Regions from separate parts of the Homo sapiens genome. Here all the other regions are linked to region 1. Evidence: fine-mapped QTL for protein levels in blood plasma. A gene starts in region 1. Each other region holds a variant in brackets. All regions are shown on one strand. Distances are between the middles of the regions.

Evidence for each region. PIP is the chance, under the fine-mapping model, that this variant and not a neighbour inherited with it causes the effect. The UK Biobank Pharma Proteomics Project read protein levels with antibody pairs (Olink). The fine-mapping took linkage between variants from a reference panel, not from the people measured, so its PIPs are less certain.
Region 2: its variant is fine-mapped to the plasma level of the CLEC7A protein (UK Biobank, PIP 0.93). The variant lies in the coding sequence of CLEC7A. If it changes the protein, the assay may bind it differently, which can mimic a change of level.
Region 3: its variant is fine-mapped to the plasma level of the CLEC7A protein (UK Biobank, PIP above 0.99).

Annotation. Positions count from the first base shown.
Region 1 is chr12:10,124,647-10,131,499 of GRCh38, forward strand. CLEC7A (C-type lectin domain containing 7A) reads right to left here and starts at 5,553. Exons shown (of 6, transcript NM_197947.3): 1 at 5,334-5,553; 2 at 3,101-3,199; 3 at 1,925-2,062; 4 at 651-802. The coding sequence starts at 5,436. It overlaps LOC105369655 (a long non-coding RNA gene), which reads left to right. Exons shown (of 4, transcript XR_007063208.1): 2 at 6,435-6,594.
Region 2 is chr12:10,114,514-10,122,709 of GRCh38, forward strand. CLEC7A (C-type lectin domain containing 7A) reads right to left here. Exons shown (of 6, transcript NM_197947.3): 6 at 2,264-4,077. The coding sequence ends at 3,945. It overlaps LOC105369655 (a long non-coding RNA gene), which reads left to right and starts at 850. Exons shown (of 4, transcript XR_007063208.1): 1 at 850-1,030. The variant A/C (reference allele first, on the strand shown) is at 3,975.
Region 3 is chr12:10,066,011-10,074,206 of GRCh38, forward strand. CLEC1A (C-type lectin domain family 1 member A) reads right to left here. Exons shown (of 6, transcript NM_016511.4): 5 at 7,283-7,401; 6 at 3,544-5,503. The coding sequence ends at 5,323. It overlaps CLEC9A (C-type lectin domain containing 9A), which reads left to right. Exons shown (of 9, transcript NM_207345.4): 9 at 1-21. Among named protein-coding and RNA genes, the nearest start is that of CLEC1A, 29 kb to the right of the region's middle. The variant T/C (reference allele first, on the strand shown) is at 4,177.

The sequences.
Region 1 (6,853 bases):
ATTGTTGCCATTTTTCTTGATAATTATGATGACAAGGAGAAGAATTTTCTACTTTACTTCCACCATATTTAAAAATTGAAATACAAACTCACAAAAATGGGTAGTGTCCTGATTATTGTAGTCATGCATACATGGAGTATGTTTGAAAGGATTTGTTTTAAGGCGAAACACAGTTTTTTAAATTAGTTAAAAATAAAAGCATATACTATGCACTTTATGTGCTTAAGGCATGCTATGATTATAATTATAGAGATATTAAAAATGAATTTTGGCCAAGTATGGTGGCTTACACCTGTAATCCCAACACTGGGAGATCGAGGTAGGCAGATCGCTTGTGCCCAGGATTTTGAGACCAGCCCAGATGATATGGAGAAACCTCGTCTCTATGAAAAATACAAAAAAACATTAGACGAGTGTGGTGGTGCACCCTGTAGTCCTACCTACTCAGGAAGCTGAGGTGGGAGGATCACTTGAGCCTGGGATGTCGCGGCTTCACTGCACTCTAGCTTGGGCAACAGAGTGAGACTCTGCCTCAAAAAAAAAAAAAAAAAAAGACTTCATTTTAGGAAAAATTGTCATTACCTGGAATCTCCCTCTATCTTCCTTCAGGATACACACCACAGATAATCATAACAGAAGTCTACACTTACCAATTCATTTGAGCTGTCTATCTTTAGGAGATTAGAGCCCAGTTGCCAGCATTGTCTTTTACTTCCATCCCAGGAATTTAGTGACATGCTGAATAGATAACAGCTCTTCTCATATATAATCCAATTAGGAGGACAAGGGCTGGAAAGAACCCCTGGAAATAAAAGATTAGTACCATGAGGTTCATAGCATACCAATTCACTCTTTTAGTGTGAACACCATTCATCTTAAGGACACTTATGAAATAACCAATTAGTTGCCATTTTTATATTTCATTGTCAATTCGAACTACAGGGATATGATTTTACAGATGAGAATACATTAAAATCTTCCTATTCATTTAAAATTTAAAAACAAACTAGCTATAAATAGTATTTTAGGCAGCCAACCATCCTTTTTTTCTTCACTTGTCTTCTATTCCTTCTAATTCAGCTCAAAACTACCTTTCTCCTTAATAACTCCTTAAAATAAGTCCACTCACAATCAGTCATTGAGGTACACAGCAATTTCATATTGCTACTTATTTTATGATGTAAGATCTACTTCATAATGTGACTTTCCAAGTGAGAAAAGTATAGGCCAATTATTCATATTATACACTATCTCTGTTATATATTATTAGCTACTTAATAAAAATAGTGAGAAGGTATGGGTCCAGAGATGAAAAATTGAACTGAAAACATTAAGTCATAGTCAATTATGATGCAATTAGAAGTAAAAGTCAAGTGTGTATAGAATTGTAATTAAGTAAATGAAATTGTATGATTAAACAAATTTGATGAGTTTTCAGGGACATGTGTATTAGGTCTACCTCTTTTGTATATTTTTAATATAGCTTCCTTATTCTTGGCAACATTTTCCCTTCTTTCCTTTCTCCCTGTCATTCTTCCTTTCTAATGTCATATTTCCTATTCTAACTGTATCGCATTTAAAATGTCAATTCTGTAAGGGGAGAGAACACTTTTCTTTTATTTGTATCAAATTATATGATCTCCTGTAGATCTAAGCACATAGCCAGTGATAAATCAGTTACTGATTTTAAAAATTAATAAAGTCCAATTTAGAACTGTCCAGCCAACTGCATAGGGTACTTATAATTTCACCTTATTGTATATATGACAGGGATACATTACACTAAGGTAATACTAATATGTGTATTTGCCTTAAATTTACAATCATTGAATCTAAGTGTTTTTCTTTACACCCCTGCCCCAGGCTTCAGCACCAAGAATTAACCCTCTTGAGTCAAGATTCCGTCCTTTAACTATGCCCTTGCCTGTGGTTTTGACAGCTTTGGTAGGAGTCACACTGTCTTCTAAAGATGATTGTGTGGGTTGACTGTGGTTCTCTTTATTTCTTGATAGAAAGTAGCCATTCTCCAATGTGTTGCTTCCTGAATTGGATCTCCAAATAGCTTCACATACCAACAATAATAATAGTGACAGAAAAAATGTCATTCTGCTGTGTTTGAAAATTAAAATCCCAAAACCCAAATGTTATTGGAATAAAAGAATACATTATTGATTAATGATAAATAGATGATATATTGCTGTGGAGAGATAAAGACGATTGATAGAATAGATGAAAAGAAATACATAACTTTTATAAAGGAGGTATAGTAAAAAAAAAAAAAGAAAAGAAAAAAGAAGGTGGAGAAGAAGAAATAGAATGAGGGAGGCAGCAAGAGGCAAATGTCATAGAGTCAATTGGACCCATGACAGATTTGAAATAGCAACATCTTTCACCTTTCTTCTGTTATTTAAAAATGAGAGATCCTTGAGAAACTGCCCAGTACCTATAACATAGAACGCACTCAATAAACATTTGACTAATTAAGGAATGTCATGAAGACTCTCTGAAGGTGACTGACAACAGATTGCATGTGATATAAAATGTAAAAAAAATATTAATCCATTACAAAATATCGACTTAAGACCAAGTGCCTCAGGAAATTTCTGGTGTATTCAAAGGTGTTTATATTAAAGATCGGAAATAATTTCCTTAAATAATGTGAATCATAAAAATAGCTTAATGTCCATTTAGTGAATTTATTTCATTAGGAAGACAGCACCATATTGTACTTTCTTCTTCAGCTCCGCTTGTTTTCTTCATTAATTTATCCTTTGAATTCCACAGCTTTGAAACCAGCTATGTAAGGGAGGTAGGAGAGCAATGTAGTTAAGAGTATGAGTTTTTTAGACAGATCACCCAAATTTCTAATCATGGTCCCACCACTAACTAGCTTATAACCCTGGAAAGGTAAAATAACCTCTCAGTCTCTCACACCCTTTATAAGTGAAATGGGCATTAACAGCACCAACCCAATACAGATAAAACCAGATTATATACAAATTAAAGTAGATTATGCATGTCAAGCCCTTAAAAGAGTGCCTGGCACATAATAATTGCTTACTAAATTGTCTGTTGTTAATCTCCTCCACCAAATACTCACCCATGGTACCCAGGACCACAGCTATCACCAGTATTACCAAGCATAGGATTCCCAAAATTACAGCAATGAGGCGCCAAGGAGGAGATGCAGCACACGATCCTGAGGAGCCAGAGGGGGCAGAAATGGAATAAAGAAAGAGAATGACGGATGGTGGGGCAGTTTAATTCTACAGTTCATCAAAAATCTGGCCTTGCACGGTGGCTCACACCTGTAATCCCAGAAGGGAGACTGAGGTAGGAGGATTGCTTGAGGCCAGAAGCTCAAGACCAGCCTGGGCAACACAGGGAGACCCTGTCCCTACCAAAAAAAAAAAAGAAAAACAAAGAAAGAAAAAAAATTTAATTAGCTGGGCATTGTGGTGAGCTCCCGTAGTCCCAGCTACTCTGGAGGCTGTGGCAGGAGGATCACTTGAGCCTAGGAATTCCAGAGCAGCATAGGCAAAAAAGTGATACCCTGTTAAAACACACACACACACACACACACACACACACACACACACACCACCAACAACAACAACAAAAAATACTGGCAAATTTTTAAGTGAATTATTAATCACTGCCTAGGTTACCTGGTCACCTAGGATTTGCTGTGCTTCTCCACCAGTAAGGATACCTTCTTCTTCAATTGCTGGAATTGTAATTTCGGCACATTGGCTTGATAACTGTATGCTCCTAATTTCAGTTCCACATTGACATCTACAGGTCTTGACATTAGTAGGATCCCTGAAATCCCACTGATTCTTAGAGGAAATAGCTTAATGTTGGGGAGATAGCACTGATTACTAAGGGTAATTTTCCCTTTTCATATGTTTGTTGCATGACCCTGGGCAAATTACTCCCTTTGTTGTTTTTTATTCCTCTTTGTGAAACTGGGGTAATAATATCTCAAAGGATTATTGCGGGAATTAAACGAGCTAACACATATAAAAGCACCTTGTTTAGAGACTGCTAGCACATGATAGGTGTGTTGTTGCAGGATACCGTTTGCCTACACATATGCATAAACATGCGCATGTCTCCCTACCTCTTGCCTCATCCACTTTTTCCACGCTTCCTCAATAGGTTGCCCAAGAAAAGAATTACATCAGTGCTGAGAGGAAAATATTTGTGCAGTGTGAATAACCAGAAAGCAGAAGAAAGCAAACTCTGGTGTCAAAACCGACAAATGATCTCTCTCTCTCAAAGATAATAGGGAACTAATTTTGTATGAACATTGCCATAACCAGAATGTATTTCTGCTTTCCACTGTGACTAAGCTGTCAGGACATTTCATAGAATTGTCACATAGGAGAATCGTAGAGTAGGCTAAATCACCCATTCTATGAATACAGAGATCCTCCAATGCCCTTCTTTCTATTTCATTTCATTTACACTTTGTTTAAGACTCATGTCCTGCTGGTGGGATGTTTTTATCTACCATATGTTCATATATTTTCCATCACTGGTATACCAATAATTGTTTTTTGTTTAAAAACAATTTAAATTAATCTCTTACCACAAAAAAAAAATGTTGTTCATATATATACTTCTTTAAGTTTCCTGGCCTCCATTCGATAATCTAGCCTTTCTATCAAACAAGCAACAAGTCACTCATACAGAAATCCTTTATCTTTGTGTATTATCCCACTTATTACCAATTCCTCACTGATGAAATGTCTATATCTATAGAAAAGAGAAATTCTATTTTCTGCCATCAGACATAATTAATTTAAACACTAATAATTGGTCACTGAATAATTTTCATGAAAAAAGGTTTAGGGTGCATTCAATTTATCTTCAGTGACATCTGAAGCCTTTAAAAGTATATCCATAAAAATATACACATCACGAGGCTCTCAAATTTTCTCCCCTTATATCTTTTTGTTTTGTTTTTATTTTTATTTTTTTTCAGAGATGGAGTCTTGCTCTGCCACCCAGGCTGGAGTGCATTGGCATGATCTTGGCTCACTGCAACCTCCACCTCCCAGGTTCAAGTGATTCTCCTGCCTCAGCCTCCCAAGTACCTGGAACTACAGGCGTGCACCACCATGCCCGGCTAATTTTTGTATTTTTAGTAGAGACAGAGTTTCACCACGTTAGCCAAGCTGGCCTCGAACTCCTGACCTCAGTCAATCCACCCGCCTCGGCCTCCCAAAGTGCTGGGATTACAGGTGTGAGCCACCATGCCTAGCCTCCCCTTATATCTTTTCAAACGGGAGAGCTAAAGGCACACATTAGAAAAAACATATATATACCTTTCTCTGAAACAACAGCTATCCTGGTATTGCTTTGAGAGTCGAAGTGTAATTGAGTATATCCATCTTCATCCAAATTTTCTAAATCAGGATGATATTCCATTGTTCTTGAGAGCCCCTGAATAGATATAGCATTTGGGAGCTCTTTTCTTTCTGCTCCTGAGATGACTGTCTGTGGACAAAAGAGAATCTCTGAGTCAAATCATGTGGGCTAGGTACTTACCGGAGTTTAACAAATTAAGCTTAAGTAGTTCAACCAGATATTCAAGAGCAGGAAATGAAACTATGCTGTGGTAATTTTCCATTTGTACCTTTAGATCCTGTTTCTGAGACTGCTGACTCAGGAAAACTAAAAGGCAGCATAGCAGATGAGTCTTTGTTTCAGACCAAATGTAAGAAAAATGCATACATTAATGTCTTATGCTGCCTTCATTACTCTCACAACTAAGTCTGACATTAATTAATTTAACCGATGCAAACTATTTCAGTTTTGGTGCTCCAAGTTTACCATAACTTTGTTCATGTATTTATTCATGTATTTTTTAAATTACATAAACAGGTACTGGATGCCCACCTTTTCAATTGGTAGGAGCTTACAATACAAGGAAAAATGATACCTATGAAGAAACTCATTGCTTAATAAAGGAAATATATAGATAGGTAAATGAGGGATGGCATGAGGAGATGCATTGTTGTAACAACAGACAGAGAAAACAAATCTCTTTGGGAATTATCAGATATTAACACAAAATAACATTTATTGAACAATTACTATGAGCTAAGTACCACATGTTGTACATATTTTCTTGTTCAATCTCACTTTTCCAAGTCTATATAGTAGGCATTATTATTTCTATTTTCAAATGAAAAAATGAGACAGAAAATTTAGCCTCTTTCTCAGGTTTAAGAAGCTAATTTTAAAAATTTAGAGCAAGGAATCAAATCAAAGCTGACTCTTGCTGCAAAACTCGTGGTCTTTTCTGTTACGCTACACTGCCTCTTTCATCATTCCATACACTTATATTGCAAGGAACAGCTTATGGAAGGTGTTGGGACTGAAATATTATGTTAGATGTTTGATTTTTTTTCCCTCTCTTCCAGTTTCCATAGTAATGATCAAATCAAAGAAATATAGAAAACACCTAACATTGCTGGAAACTGAAGAGGTGTTCAACTCATTTATCCGACCTTGAAGCCAGTAGAGTGCAGGAGACATCTGAGTGTTGTCAAGGATCAACAAATCTGGATACTAGTTAATGTGGTGAGGACAGGTTTTATTCAGTAATACTATTGCAACAGGAACCAGTGCAGCATTAACTGAACTCAACTTCCCCAAAAGTAAAGCTGATGACATTTTAAAGTGGAGTTTGCTAAGGAAAAGATACTGAGTGGTGTTAAGGAAAGTTAATGTGACTAGACTCTCTGGATTTGTTAATTGGCCCTTATCCAGAGGACAGAGAAACTTTGCCTATCTATATGACAGAAGGACATGGTGATAGTTGAAGTGAAGCACCCAGCTA
Region 2 (8,196 bases), 9.5 kb before region 1:
AAAAGGCACTTAGAAGGTGCCTGTAATTATGATTCTCATAAAATAGCAATTAGAACTATTTCCCAAGCTTCAGTTATTCAAGTATATTCCTAATAATTTTTGATAAAAAACCTACATTAACATTTATACTACTTTTCCTTAAAAGCTTATTTTTTTTTCAAAAAATATTTTTGACTATCGACTGTATGGCAAGTACTATTCTCAGACTGTTGGATACATCCATGTACAGCAAAGCTGTCTGTCCTTTTAGAGACTATATTCTACGGAGAAAGGCAGACGATATATAAGAAACAGATAGATAAGAAAGAGGAAGACAATATACAAGAAAGAGAATAAGTATCATGCTGGTGCAAAAGTAATTGCGGTTTTTGCCATTACTTTTATCCTATATACTTTCAATGGCAAAAACCGCAATTTTGCACCAACCTAATAAGTAAATAGTAGAGTATATTAGACTATAATAAATGCTATGGTAAATAAACAGAGGTAAGGGAGATGAAGAATGTAGGGAAAAAGGGTTGGTAACTTTAAATAGTTATGTGAGTAAGCATCATTAAGAAGGTCATGTTTGTGCAGAGATGGAAACGAGGTGAGAGGCCAGGCCCTGCAGCTTTGTCGGGTAAGAATCATTCAGGCCGGGCGCGGTGGCTCACGCCTGTAATCCCAGCACTTTGGGAGGCCGAGGCGGGCGGATCATGAGGTCAGGAGATCCAGAACATCCTGGCTAACACAGTGAAACTCCGTCTCTACTAAAAAATACAAAAAAAAATTAGCCAAGCGTGATGGCGGGCGCCTGTAATCCCAGCTACTCGGGAGGCTGAGGTAGGAGAATGGCGGGAACCCGGGAGGCGGAGCTTGCGGTGAGCAGAGATCGCGCCACTGCACTCCAGCCTAGGCCACAGAGCGAGACTCCGTCTCAAAAAAATAAAAGGATCATTCAGGTAAAGCAGATAAGAATCACCAATACCTTGAGGTGGAAGCACGCCTGACATGGTTGAGAAACAACAGAGAAGCCGGCGTCCTGAGTGCGGTGAGTAAAGATGAAGGAAGTAGGAGATTAGCTCAAAGTTAAGAGGGCCAGAATATGTAGCGTCTTATAGATAATTACAAAGGTATTTCTTTTTTATGTTGCTTTGTTTTTACTCTGAGATACATGAGAAGTTGATGAGAATTTTAAGTGGAGAACCGACATGATTTTATTTAAATTTAATGGTCTCACTCTGATTTGTTTGAAAATAGACTGTAGAGGGTGAGGGTGAAGGCTCAGAGACGACTTCAAAAATTATTGCTATAAGCCAAACAAGTGAACATGGTGGCCCCTGAGCATGTCCTCTGGTGTGACCATTACTCATCTCGAATTTAACTTTCAGACTGAGGTTCGGCTAGCAGCTATTTCACCTTTTCTGTCTCTTGGAAAAGTGTGGATGTTTTCTGTCTCTTGGAAAAGTGTGGATGTTTTCTGTCTCTTGGAAAAGGGTGGATGTTTTCTGTTTATTAACGTATATTTCCATATAAGCTGTGATATAAACGTGTCTCAACAGGTCAGGTACTGTATGTCTTGCACAACGTAGAGCAATCTTACTTTACACCGTCACTTTCGTGATACCCACGTCATGGGTTAGGTTGCCTGGCCTGTCTGTTCACTAGATTAGTACAGCTGGATCTTCAGCATCCAGTTATTTACCTTGATTACCATAATTTCTTGGAGTCATCCACTATATCCTGGGGACCCAGGAGGAATGAATCAAAACAAAACCAAAATTAAAATACTAGATATCTCTTCCAAACTCCATCCTATGCTTTAACTACTTAAAACAGTTAACCATACTCCTCATGTTCTCAGCCTGATCTATCTCTTCCCTTTCTTTTTTTATGTTTATTATACATTACATCATTTATTTATTTATGTATGTATTTTTAATTGTACTTTAAGTTCTGGGATACACGTGCAGAACGTGCAGATTTGTTACATAGGTATATATGTGCCATGGTGGTTTGCTGCACCTATCTATCTCTTCCCTTTCTACATGTTTTTAAGTAATGAAAACAAATTTGCATATTAAACAACAATAGTAAACCTCACAAAGATCTTTATCTTCTCTTAGGTTTTTAAAATTTTTAAGATCGCGAATTAATGCTTTAATATCAAAATATCTACTATAAATATCCACTCCACCCATACCAAATTCATCATCATTTTTGGGGAGAGGGCAAATTGTAATAGTGATTGTGACACACAGGCACATAATTTAGAGGCCATGGGTTTTTTGATAAGAGTTTTTTTTTATTGAAATGAAATCCACATAACATAAAATCATCCATTTTAAACTGCATAATTTAGTAAAATTGGTACAATTTCTTTTCACATATTAATCAACATTAGAGGACTGTAAATGCCTCCCTAGTAATACAGAAATATCCATTGGAAATAAAAATAGCACCAGTGGGAAAGTATGAAAAAAATAAGACAAATCAGCACATGAGGAAATATAGTTTCATTCCAATAATACCATTTTACAGTAATTACTGAAAAAAATGGTAAAAATTGTAAAACAGTACATCACAAAACTAATAAAACATATTCCAAAATGTTAATACTTGTTCCAATGAGGTTGGTTACTTTTTTATATTCATCATCAGATTTTATGTATTTTTATGTATTTTTGTATTTAAAAAGCAGAAAACTTTCCTATGAGAGCAGTTTCCCTACAATTACATATTATACAAGATTCTAGGCTGGGTGCAGTGGCTCACGCCTGTAATCCCAGCACTTGGGAGGCCGAGGCAGGCAGATCACTTGAGGTCAGGAGTTCGGGACTACCCTGACCGACATGGAGAAACCCTGTCTCTACTAAAAAAATACAAAATTAGCCGGGTGTGGTGGTGCCTGACTGTAATCCCAGCTACTTGGGAGGCTGAGGCAGGAGAATTGCTTGAACCCAGGGGGCGGAGGTTGCGGTGAGCCGAGATCGTGCCGTTGCACTCCAGCCTGGGCAACAAGAGCGAAACTCTGTCTCAAAAAAAAAAAAAAAAAAAAAGATTCTATTAGAGATATGGCAGATGTACTCTCTGAGCTATTTAATTGATAAAGAAAAAGTAGGAGTTCCTGCTTTTTACTAAGATGATAATCATAATTATGATCATACTGATGAAAATAATAAAATTGCTCTGACTGTGGTGAAGATTTTTTCCCATTTCTTCATTTAGCTATTCAGAAATATATTTCACCCTCAGTTCATAACTGATATACTGCTAGAAGTTGAGGGTCAAATCGTGGCAACACACCGTGCACTTCAATGGCATTGTTGAGCATGAAACAACTCTGATAGAGCCAGAAATTAAGATTCGCTTATGGCTTACCCAAGGTAAATGCCAAGTCAATGGCAGAATGAAAATTCAAGCTTGGGGCCAGGTGTGGTGGCTCACATCTGTAATCCCAGCACTTTGGGAGGCCAAGGCGGGCAGATCACTTAAGCCCAGGAGTTAGAGACCAGCTTGGTCAACATGGCAAAACCCAGTCTCTACAAAAAACACCAAAAATTAGCCTGGCATGGTGGCATGCACCTGTAGTCCCAGCTACTTGAGGGGCTGAGGCGAGAGATAGCTGCAGTGAGTCGAGATTGTGCCACTGCACTCCAGCCTGGGTAACAAAGTGAGACCCTATCTCAAAAAAATAAATAAATAAAAAATAAAAACTCAAGCTTGGCTGCCCTGATTCCATGTCTAGGGATCTACTAACTAGAAAAATAATACTAGCCTACCTGTAGGTCGACAAATACAGAAATCACAGCCTCTCCCTTCAATTTCTTGGTTAAGATTACAGTTGGCCAAGCTCTCTAAACATTTTCTGCATTTATCTTGACCTCAGCTGTTACTCTTTTCTGTTCTGTTTTCTGTCCTCCTTACTACCTCACATATTTCTCTCTCCTTCTCCACCCTTCCTCTTACATTGAAAACTTCTTCTCACAAATACT[A/C]TATGAGGGCACACTACACAGTTGGTCATAAATGACTGACACGTGAATCCATACACAATTTGGAGATGGGTTTTCTTGGGTAGCTGTGGTTCTGATCTGAAATCTGTTAAAATAGAATACAGTGAGGTAATTAGAACAAATGTTAAGGAATACTGTCTACATGGCGCACAAATAAATTAGTAAGGATATTGGTGAAAAGAGTTCTGAAGTGTTTCTATTATTGGAAAAGGAGGCTTAAATCTAAATTGTTGTGAATCTCAAGTGGTTAAATGAATAGTCTCCATTATTAAGGCAGAAAAACGACTTAATTTTTTTTCAAGAACTGCTACTAGCTGCATAAACTAAAAAAAAAGTTCCTGACAAAGAAGAAAAATCATTTAATATTCTATAAAAAGTTCTTTATATATCTTTCAGCCTATTACTTAAATGTTTCTTTATCAAATCAAGTAACAGTTTAATTAAATTATTACTGGATATACTTAATGAGTAGACCAAGCAGAAGCATTAATGCTAAAACAGATCTAGAACTAAAAAGAGAATCAGAGATGCCCAGGCCATTTAAAGGCAGGGCAAACAACTCTGTATATTTTAATGTATCCTGGAAGCAGAATTATATTACAATACAATGCTTGACAGTTATGGAAATCAACACTGCTAAATGCAGGCATGGTCCTGTTCAGTTTGGTCTTCAATCTCCTTAAGTAGCAGTGTTAATGAGTCAAGCTCAAAGAGCATCACTGACCGTCAGTGCAAAAGCTATGACTTGGCACTCTTTGTCCTGGTTATGTATCTCTCCCTCTTGACCCTGAGGTTGGAAGATTGAGAAAACTTTGCTTTAGCGATGACTAAGGCTAAGATTAACTACTTAGATTCAGACCTCAGGGAGAACTCTGACCAGCATTATTCCTTAAAAATTTTCCTTGACCTATAAGTGTTTTGGGGGCATAGACACAGCTAGATTAAATAAATGCCACCCGGAAAACAAAAAAGTAGTAACATATCAAAATGTTAACTTGGGCCCACTTGTGATTATAGAAAGAGTCCTCTAGTCATACATTTAAAATAGCAAGAGAAAACTCAAGACAAACAAGTACTATAAGAAAGTAGAAAATACATTTGGCTGATAATAAATTCACTGTACTTAGCCTAGTAGAAGTAAAACAGTTAAGTGATTATGCTCAGCAGTTTGTACTGTTCACACTATTGGGTGAACAGACCTGGTGGTGAGAACAGAGGCAAATGAAAAAACACTTCAAATTAATTCTACAAAGATTTTAAGATAAAATGTTAACAACACTATAAAAAGCAATCTGACATAAGAGAAAACTAATCAACACAAAAGAAAAATAGTAAAAAAAAAAACAAACAGAAACAGATACATATAGAAAATTGGAATTATCAGACACAAGCTAAAACAACTATGGTTAGTGTATTCTGAAAGTTAGAAGACAATACTAAGAATGTTGGAAGAAAAAGTAGAAGTATACGTGTTGAAATAATAGATTTGAGAAAGAACTAAACTAAAATTATAAAACTGAAAATGTCACCAAACAAAATAAAAGACTTAATAGAGGCTTTTAATGGTAGATTAGCCACAGATGAGAAAAAATAGATGACCGGAAGATATGTGAAAGGTTATTACATAGATTGGAGCAAAAAGCTAAAAAAGAATGAAAACACAGGAAAAAGCAAAAGAAACATATAGGATGGTGTCAATGGGTCTGTAATGAATGTAACTGGGATTCCAGGAGAAGGGAAAAAAGATGGGGAAAAGCAAAATATGAAGCAAGTATGGCTGAGAATTTTTCAGTGCTGAGTAAACACATTAGTTTTAAAACATATATTACCTTCAAACAGATGACCTCTCAAAAACAACAGTAAAAAATAGAAAACAGTGGAATAATATATTTGAGTGGCTGAGAGGAAAAACAACAAACCTCTAATTCTATACTTACTGGAAATATCAGTCTTAAGAAAAAATACCTGTAATGTACAGTTGGAAAGGAAGAAAGAAATAAACAACTAAAATCATAAATATGTGGGCAAATTGAAATGAATACTAACTGCATAAATCTGTGCGCCACCTTGTCTGTCTAATTTTTATATCTTTTTTTTTTTTTTGTAGAGATGGGGTTTCACCATTTTGGCCAGGCTGGTATCGAACTCCAGAGATCAAGTGATCCGCCTGCCTCGGCCTCCCAAAGTGCTGGGATTATAGGCGTGAGTCCCCGCGCCCGGCCCAAGGGCTAGTTTTTTCTTTTTTCTTTTTCTTTTTTTTTTTTTTTAATACTGAGTCTGGCTCAGTCACCCAGGCTGGAGTGCAGTGGTGCGATCTCGGCTCACTGCAACCTCCGTCTCCCGGGTTGAAGCAATTCTGGTGCCTCAACCTCTGAGTAGCTGGGATTACAGGCGTCCACCACCACACCCAGCTGGTGACGCATAGCTGTAGTCCCAGCTACTCAGGAGGCTGAGGTGGGAGAATCGCTTGAACCCAGGAGGCAGAGGTTGCAGTAGGCCAAGATTGCCCCACTGCACTCCAGCCTGGGCGATAAAATAAAAATAAATAAATAAAAATAAATACATTAATATAATAGCATATAAATTGAGGAGAGAGTCAACAGAGTAAAGGAATGCTCTATGATTTTTATATTGGTCAGGAAGAACATAAAAATGTCAGTTAATGTTAGTCTTTGATGAGTGAAGTATACATGTGTAATTCCTAGAACAACTACTAAAAGATTAGTAAAAGAGATGTAAAAGACATGAAAGAGCACATTCCAAATGAACAGAAAAAAAAAACAGAATAAGAAAAAGTGTTAAATCGTCCAAAAAGGAGGAAAGAAAGGGGAAAAAAAGTAACAATTCTAAATCTTTATGTGCCTGATAACACGGCTTCAACACATCGAATAAAATGTTTACAGAACTGTAAGTAGAATCGCAGCGGAAGATTTCAACACAATTCTTTTCATATGGAAAGAGGAAGAAGCACGTAAAAATCACAGAACTACAAGCACGTGGAGCATGTTCTCTGATCACAGTGGAACTAAGCCTGAAACCTAAAACAAAGAGATAACCAGAAACACATATGTTTGTAAATTAAGAAATGCATTTCTAAATAACTCCTGGGTCAAAGAGCAGCTCACAGTGGAAATCAGAAAGTATTTTGAACTGAAAGACAATGAAAATACATTAAAATTATAGCCTTAAGTCTACATACTTGAGATAAAGGAAGGCTTAAATTCATGAGGCAAGCACCCAATACGAGAAGTTTGAGATGGAATAGCAAATTTAAAACAAATAAATTAGGTCAGGAGATCGAGACCATCCTGGCTAACACGGTGAAACCCCGTCTCTACTAAATATACAAAAAATTAGCCGGGCATGGTGGTGAGCGCCTGTAGTCCCAGCTACTCAGGAGGCTGAGGCAGGAGAATGGCGTGAACCCGGGAGGCGGAGCTGGCAGTGAGCCGAGATCGCCATTGCACTCCAGCCTGGGTGACAGAGTGAGACTCTGTCTCAAAAAATAAAACAAAATAAAATAAAAATAAATTAGATGGAAGGAAGTAATACAGATTAGAATAAAAGTTAATGAAAGAAATAATAAAAAGACAGAGTCAACAAAGTCAAAAGTTACTTTCTTTGAAAAACCAAATTGAACGGTACTCCTACTGAGACAGATGAAAAAACACACACAGGTGTGCACACACACACTAATAATAAGAACTTAAAAGAGACATATTTCATATTCTGCAGATATTAAAAAGCAAATGAATGACAACAGCAGTGACAGAAACCACATAATAAGGAATAATGTATCATCAGGCAAATGTGAAATACGTTTAAAATATCTTTCTAAAATGCAAAATGTGAAAATGTGGTTGCTTTTTAACTTAATAATAAGTCTCACACATTAACTATGTACAAGACACTGTGCTAAATTATTTTACTTTTATACCCATCTCACAATTCTAAGAGGAAAGCACTCTTTCTTTTTTTCTTTTTTTTTTTTTTTTTTTTTGAGTTGGAGTCTCACTGGAGTCTCACTCTGTCATCCAGGCTGGAGTGCAATGGTGCAATCTCAGCTCACTGCAACCTCTGTCTCCCAGGTCCAAGCAATTCTCCTGCCTCAGCCTCCTGAGTAGCTGGGATTTCAGGCAATGCCACCACACCCGGCTAAATTTTTAGTGGAGGTGGGGTTTCACCATGTTGGTCAGGCTGGTCT
Region 3 (8,196 bases), 58 kb before region 1:
AAATTTGGCCTTTAAAACTCACTGTCTGTGAGATCTTTCTATGCATTTTCTAGGCTTTCAGGCATTATGTTATCAGACTGATAGAAGAACAGAGATACGAATTTCCAAACTGGAAGAAAGGCAGACTTCTATCTGCAGCCTGTAAGACAATGTACTTTTTAAGATTTGATTTCTTCTAGAAAGATGAACTACTAGAAGTTGACATAAGCAGAAGGAATAGTCAGGATGCCAGGATCAGAATGTTCTCCAGAGAATTCTGTGAATTCCCTCTTTCCTCTCAATGACCATGCCTGGCATTCGCAAACCAAAGGGCTCATGGTCTGGTCCCTCAGGGTTAACACGCCAACACTTTTGATTACGTCTTTCAGTGCCTCGATTGCCTCATTGTAAAATAACAGCAGAACTTACTCCAAAATATTGTGTGAGGAGTAGACTGTAAATATATGTCAGTGCTGAGAATAGTCTTGCACAGAGTTGAACACTCTATCAGTGCTTGGTTTTGTTCTCTGGACTACACCACCAATCATCTATACACATCAACCTTTATTTGTGCATCCCAGGCAAAAATGATCCCTTTTTTTGCTCCTCTTGGAGGGATATTCAGAAGTTAAAGTTTATGTGTAAAATGTCAGCAACTCTCTGGAGAGAATATCTGCTTTAAAGTTAATGGATTCTCCTCAAATAAATCTATAGACATTCTCTGCCCTAAGTCTGTAGACTCCCTGAAGCATGGACTATCTTATTCCCTAGAGACCATTAATAGCAAAGAACCCTGTGATCTACAGAAAGAACAGATTCTTTAATTATTATTATATTACTTGTTACCACTTACGTCCCTGCAAGAACGCCGTACCACATAGTAGGTTCTCAATAAATATTTGCTTAATTCAGTATAATTTTATTTAATTCTTCATTTCTCATAAAGAGGAGCTGAGATTCATTAGATTATCATCTTTTCTTCCTAAGCATAAAGGCATCACTTAAATATATAAAGTAAAAAAAAAACCTAATTCTCTGAGTCACTGGAAATCATTTAAATGAAACTAAATATCCTCTTACCTAAATGTCCTTTTACAATGGGTAAGGTTGTGTAAGGATGAGAAGAGCATGTTTTTGTTTATTTACCCTTGACCTAGAGTTTAAATGTGGGAGTTTAAGTAAAAGAGATTTTTCTCTAATTTTCTGCAGAACCTGAAAAAGGAGAATAGCAGAGAAAACACAGCATATATTGTCTCCTGTGTTTGATTTTTACAGCTGACAGCTGGCAGCTGAATGTAATAACCTGGAATAAAGGAGAAACAATAGTGGAATTTACTAGCAAAGACTGTTTGCCTTAAAGATTCTTCAAAGTATTGTCATGGAACTATGTTTAGAGGAAGGATACGAAGCACTTATAATCATTCTTTAAGAAGTACAATAAAGCAAAAGGCAAACATCCTTCAGCTGATGTCATCCCGTAGTGTATGATGCAGTATTTTCAAATTAGAATTTATCTACAGCGCAGCTGACTTCAGCTCCTACAAATCTCCTCAGCAGCGATGCTACTTTCCACACAGATGCTATAGTTGGGTGATTCTTCTCTGCAGGTTGCTTTTGGTCCAGGATACCAAGGCTTTTCAGATACAACACTGAGTATGCCAGTCTTATATCCTAGTCCCACCAACAATGAATTGGGCATCTTAGATCTCTTTCATTGAGTTCTAAGTTAGTCTTAAACAAACGAAAAGAAAACTAAAAATAAAACTATCCTGCAAATGTGAAGAGTTTTTTTACATGTTTGGTTAAAGTACATTAAATGTATAAAAAGTATACATAATAATATTGGTAGAATAATAGTAGATACTATTCGAGCCTAAAAATCTATTCATATAATGAAGCGTGTACAAAAGTCACGCAGACTTTAAATCAGAGGATCCTGATTTGTTTGTAATCTTCAAATACTGTAAGAATCTCTCTACAGAGGAGTTGACTCCCAAATATTAAAGCTGGCCCAGAGACAACCTGCTAACCTACTAGACTTTTCTCCTTGTTCATAATGTGTTTGTATCCTCAAAATAAAAGCTCCCCGTTACTCTTCTCACACTTCCTGCTGTTACAGGGCTCATGACCTGTTTCCTGTTGATAAATCCTGAAAGCTGGTTCAATATCCTCAGGAAAAGAAAGAGCTTATTGTGTACCGGAGATCTCAGCTCTACCAGGAAAGGCTGGGCTCCTCGTTTGACTGTTCCTGCAATTTCTTCAGAATTACATAAACAAGAACCTAGAAAGAAAAAAGTCTCCTCATCCAGAAAAACCAGTTCATACAGTGCCCCTCTCTGATTCTCAACTGGATATTGTTCTTAGCAAATCAGATTTTAAAATTCACTTTATCATTATGTCCTATTCTTAATATCATTTTTCTAAAGTGTGTAGTGAGAATGCTATGCTATACACTTTTTTCTGTTGTTTTGAAATGTTTGTTCACATTGTGATCAATATTGTGAGTTTTGCTATAAAGACAAAGGGATTAAGGGGAAACATGAAGAATAAACTCAGGGAAGGAGCTGAAGTATGTCAAATGTATGCTATTTTTTCCTCCTCACAATCTAAAGTGACACTATCCCTTAGTCCCAGACTTGGAATGACATACCATTCAAAACTCACTCTAGGCAGCTAGACCCTTCACATCAATGGCACTTAAAGAGTGGCTTGTCATCCATCCCTGAGCTAGACTGCAGCCACATAGGATGCTAGGAGTCAAAACTTAAATGAGTGCATGTCTCTGTTTTACAGCTTAGTCCACAAAATCATTTGACTTCCTCCTATCAGTCATATTTTCTTTCTGTAGCAACAAGGCTTACATAACAATTGCTTAACTGCAGGCTTACTTCTCATTTCTTGTTATGTACCTATTATATGAACTACTTTCATCGAAAATCTGCACTCATCATCAAAAATATTTGGTAATAAAATCCTTAGCTCCCCAAAGTAGGTGCCCTTCTACAATTTGTTCATAAATACAGATTTCCAAAGAAGTTTGTTGTTATTAATAAATCAAGTTTAGCCTAACGCTGCCTTTTTACGTATTTTAAGTTTAGCTTAAAGGATTCTCTGTACATAATGTCAACTATAACAAGTTGAGGGGTAAACAGACCCTAGTCTATACTTGTGCCAATCACTGTGCTTTGGCCAATCAAATGTAGCCAACTGTTTGAATTGTGTTCAAATAAGGCAAACTCCGAGCTGTAAGCAATCCAGCTTTTTCTGTACCTCACTTCCGTTTTCTTTACTACGTTTTCCTTTTTCTGTCCATAAATCTTCTTCCACCACATGGCTGCACTGGAGCCTCTGAGTCTACTCTGGCTCTGGAGGCTGCCTGATTTGTGAATGAGTCATTGCTCAATTAAACTCTTTTAAATTTAATTGAGCTGAAGTTTTTTTCTTTTTAACATTGCTTATGCATGTGTATGTGCGCCCCTATATTTAAAAATAAATCACTAGATCCTTTTAAAAATATTTTCTTGACTTCCCTTACATTTTTTATTGCAGTTCACATTATGAAACTGATTTCACATTTACTTTATTTCAGCTAACAGTAACATTATGAGGAAATTATAATTATTTCTACTTCATATGCAGTGAAATAGGTTTCATGAAGTAAAGTGACTTGCCTAATAAGTAAATCAGAATAAGAGGTCTAAAATCTTCATTTTCTAACCACAAATACAGTTTTCTTTGCATGACACAATATATCAACAGAACTTGCTCGACCCTGAAGAAAATTTTAAGGAAATCAACAGAAAATTGAAAGGAAAGTTCTCAAGGAAGAATCCGCAATAGTCTTTGCTAAGTGACAATCTAACAAAATGAAGTTTATGAAAATGAGCACCAATGTGTTCTTTCTATCATATGATTGCTACTATACGTCATTTTACCATGAGATAGATGTTTATGAAAAACAAAACTGAAGCACCTCAGTTTCCACTGTTGAAAAACAAAGATTTATAATGTTATCTTTTCTAGCATAAAACCCTCAAAATTGATTTATCAGTAAACCAATAAACTTGGTGGCTGTGATGGTGTCATTCCCAATGATCCCTGTTATATTTGTGCATGGAGTCGTCTCAAGAAAGAAGTGCCTCACAAAGGAGCAGCTACAAAGATGTCACTGTCTCTGTTCATTTCCCATGACCTGAC[T/C]GGAAATCATGTGCACTAATGCAACTCAGCTTCCTCATCAACCATGTGTTGATGCCATAAGCTCACCTCAAAAGATTTCATTTTAGGAAAACGTTAAAACTGTTTTCTTGAAGCCAACACGTATTTCAAAGACATCTTATTTTCTCCAGATAATCATGTAATCAGTACTCTTGTAAATTCCCCAAAAACTTTCAGTAAGGCACAATCAAAATAATGACCGCTATCATATTTTGAAAAGCATTTCCATGCTGAATTTTCCCACCAACCATAAGTCCATTGTAAAATCACACACACTTCACAGTATTTACATTTATTATTATTAAATCTTCAGTACCTGAAAGGTATAAATATGGGTCAATGGAAGAAAATAGGAACTGAAACTATTACAGGTGCAGATGAAGAGGCTCACTTTTTTCTGGTCTTTAATCTCTCTGAAGGGAATATCGGGGACGGTAGTTCTGATATGAAACGGAGATGGGGATATATTTCTTTCCTGGGAGAAATTCCTATGGAGGGGAGACAATTATCAGAGTCTTAATGGACACAGGAAGGAATGCTTATAAGGCATTGAGATTTGAGATTCTCATATCAAGTGACATCCCTGTTGGGAAACGGCATGGACAAGGCAGATGGGGTCTTTACTGATGGATTGGGAAGGGACTAGTATGAACTGAAACAAACAAAAAGAATTCCTTGTGTATTTGCTGGTACAATCTGGGAAGTGACTGCCAATTTCTGATGGACTACTTGACTGTCAGAGAAAAGGATGTTACCTCAATGTATTTCCTCTACTTCAAAAAGTTTCTTATTCCACCAAGTGTAAGGAAGACATGAAAACAGGGAGGTGATATTAGACATTGAGAAGAAAGAGAGCTAAAAGTTATCTCTAAGCCAAGAAGGCAGATGACATTATGGGTTTCTGAGGTTGGTTGGTGGCATGTAAATAAGACTTCTTGTGACTGTTAAATACGTGCATAAACCCAAGCTCAGAAATGCTGGTGATCCTGAACAGGAAACACGAGAACCCATTTTGTACTAGTCAGAGAGATAGTCTTTCCTGATTATGTTCCATTTCCCAATGTCTCAACTAGCCCTTGCTTTGGCACCGCCTGGCTCACTCTGCTATTTGTAGTTGCAGAGGGCGAATCAGTCACCTTCGCCTAATGTTTCAGGGGGGACATGGAGGCTCTCTGGCTTCACCATTCCTGCCCTTCTCTCACAGACACAACGCTTCAATTCTTTGCAGTCCTTTGAGAAGATCATCCCATTAAGGATGGCCACACAGTCTCTGCTTCTTGGGCTGGTGACATCTATTATAATATGGAACCTTAAGAAAGGAAGAAAAAGTAAATTCAATCACGGTTTATTTCTAAAATAAAATATTAAATACCCATTCTTTCTAGAGTTATAAAATTATAGTCTAGATACCAGAATAAGTTTACCGGGAAACTGGGGTCATGTGCCTCTTTCTCTTCAGCCCCTAAGTTTCCATACTCATTCTTAGAAACAGCAGGTCACCCCAAACAGCAAAAACCATTTCTAACTAAAGCGAAGCTACGTGTTCTCCTCCAAATTTATATAGTGTTTCTGCCACTTAAAAAGTTCTCTACCTTCTCTGTAACTCAGTTTACTTAACTGTAAAATACAAATGATTACATCAAATATATCCTGTCTCCTGGGAGAATAATGATATATTGTATATAGGGAAGAATGGTGTCTGTTCAAATATGGCTTTAAATGTGATATATTTTGATAGAGAAATTACAATTTCCTCTTTCAAAGGATACTGATGTGGTTTGGATGTGTGTTCTTTCCAAATCTTAGTTGAAATGTTATCCCCAGTGTTGGAGATGGGGCCTGGTGGGAGGTGTTCGGGTCATCGGGGTGGATCCCTCATGAATGGCTTGGTGCCCTCTTCTTGGTGATGAGTGAGTTCTCACTCAGTTAGTTGATGCAAGATCTGGTGGCTTAAAAGGGCCTGGAACCTCCCCCCAGCCCCTTCTCTTTTGTGTTCTCTCTTGCCATTGGACATGCCAGCTCTTGCTTCGCCTTCTGCCATGAGTAAAGCTCCCTGAAGCCTCCTCAGAAGCCAAGCAGATGCTTGTACAGCCTGCAGGATTGTGAGCCAATTAAACCTCCTTTCTTTATAAGCTATCCAACCTCAGGCATTCATTTATGCTGATGCAAAAATGGACTAACACAGATACCATATGTACTCCTGTCTAAATGCTCACAGCATATGTACGACTAGTGTTTTATATTACCCCTTACATTTTCAGCAAATCTTTTCTCAGAGATTGTGTTTTTTAAAAGATGTGCTCCCTATTTTGCTGCACAGAAAGCCAAGAACTCTTATGCTATCTCTGGGTACTGACAAGTTGTGTGACTTTAGGCAACCACCATTACAGCCTGGACTCCTGGGCTTCAATTTACTCACTCAGGGAAAGATCTCTCTCTCTCTCTCTCTCTCTCTCTGTCTCTCCCTTCTCTCATCTGCAGTATGTCCCAGACACAAACTTCTGAAAGCAGCAAGAGAACTACCCTGATATTTTACTAATGCTATGTATCTGTCTCCCTCACTGGCTTATAAGCAGTTCAAAAGCAGGCACTGGCCGGGTGCGGTGGCTCATGCTTGTAATCTCAGCACTTTGGGAGGCCAAGATGGGCAAATCACTTGAGTCCAGGAGTTCTAAACAAGACTGGGCAACACATCATAATCCTGTCTTTCCAAAAAAGACAAAAAATTAGCTGCATGTAGTGGTGCACGCCTGTAGTCCGAGCTACTCAGAAGGCTGAGGTGAGAGGAGAGCTTGAGCCTGGGAGGCAGAGGTTTCAGTGAGCAGAGCTTGCACCACTGCACTCCAGCCCATGCAACAGAACAAGACCCTATCTCAAAAAACAATCAAACGAACAAACACACACACACACACAAACAAAATGAGGATGCACTATTGTTCAAATATCTTCAGGCATCCTCCTGCAAACACAGTATCCAGTACAAAGCAGAAGTTTGATTAATACTTGATGGACCAAATTCTTGAGCTCTATCACTCAAGCAAAATATCTTTGTTAAATGCCTTTCCCATAAAATATCCTGAAGGCTTACAGTTCAGAAGTGAAAGGGGTTCCATCCATCCACAGCCAGGCCTTGCCACTGTCAGGGCGCAAAAGCCCTGTCCAATAAGAGTAGAAAAACTCAGAGTAGCTCTGAGACGCGGCAAATTCCTGTGAAAAGCACATAAGAAAAGCTTTAGCTTTGGTGGCATGATTACTCACATGTACAGACATGCATGGGCCAGCCAGCACTTTTCTCAAAGCACACACAAGTCCTGCTTCACATTGATGCTCATATGCTTAAGAGAAAAAGCATCTATGCTGAGGCCAGTCAGAAATTTGTCCAGGTTTAATAACTTATTTTGTCTTAGTAAATATGGAACACATGTCGATATTCTGAAAGCGGAAATCACATCAACCAAGATTTGTTCCTGACCCATGGCTTTTAAGGCACAGAATTAAACATTAATGTTGACATAAAAATATGAGGGAAAGACTAACAAAGAGATGCAGAATGATTCTGGGACATGGAAGAATATGGAGGGAAAAGTGCAGGAATGAGGTAGTAACCGTTATAAATACCTGGGAAAGGAAGAAAAAAAGTAAAAGAAAAATTTGCAAGGATGATTTATGTCTTAGACTAGGAAGAGAAGAAAGAAATTTTTAAATTTCTATCTATAAATATTTATGTGCACACATGTGTATAGTCCTATACATGGTAATCCTTTTCCCAATATCCATATTTAACATATGTTTACATTTTAAAAGTTGTTTACTTACTTCTATCTAGTCTCACTCTGCACTCCTAATAGATATTTTTGGAGGATTGGTGGCGACAGGGTCTCACTCTGTTGCCCAGGCTGGAGTGCAGTGGCACGATCATAGCTCACTGCAGCCTCAACCTCCCCAGGCTCAGTGCACTCCTAATATTTTAACATAGAAATTATCTAAATATTTATTATAATT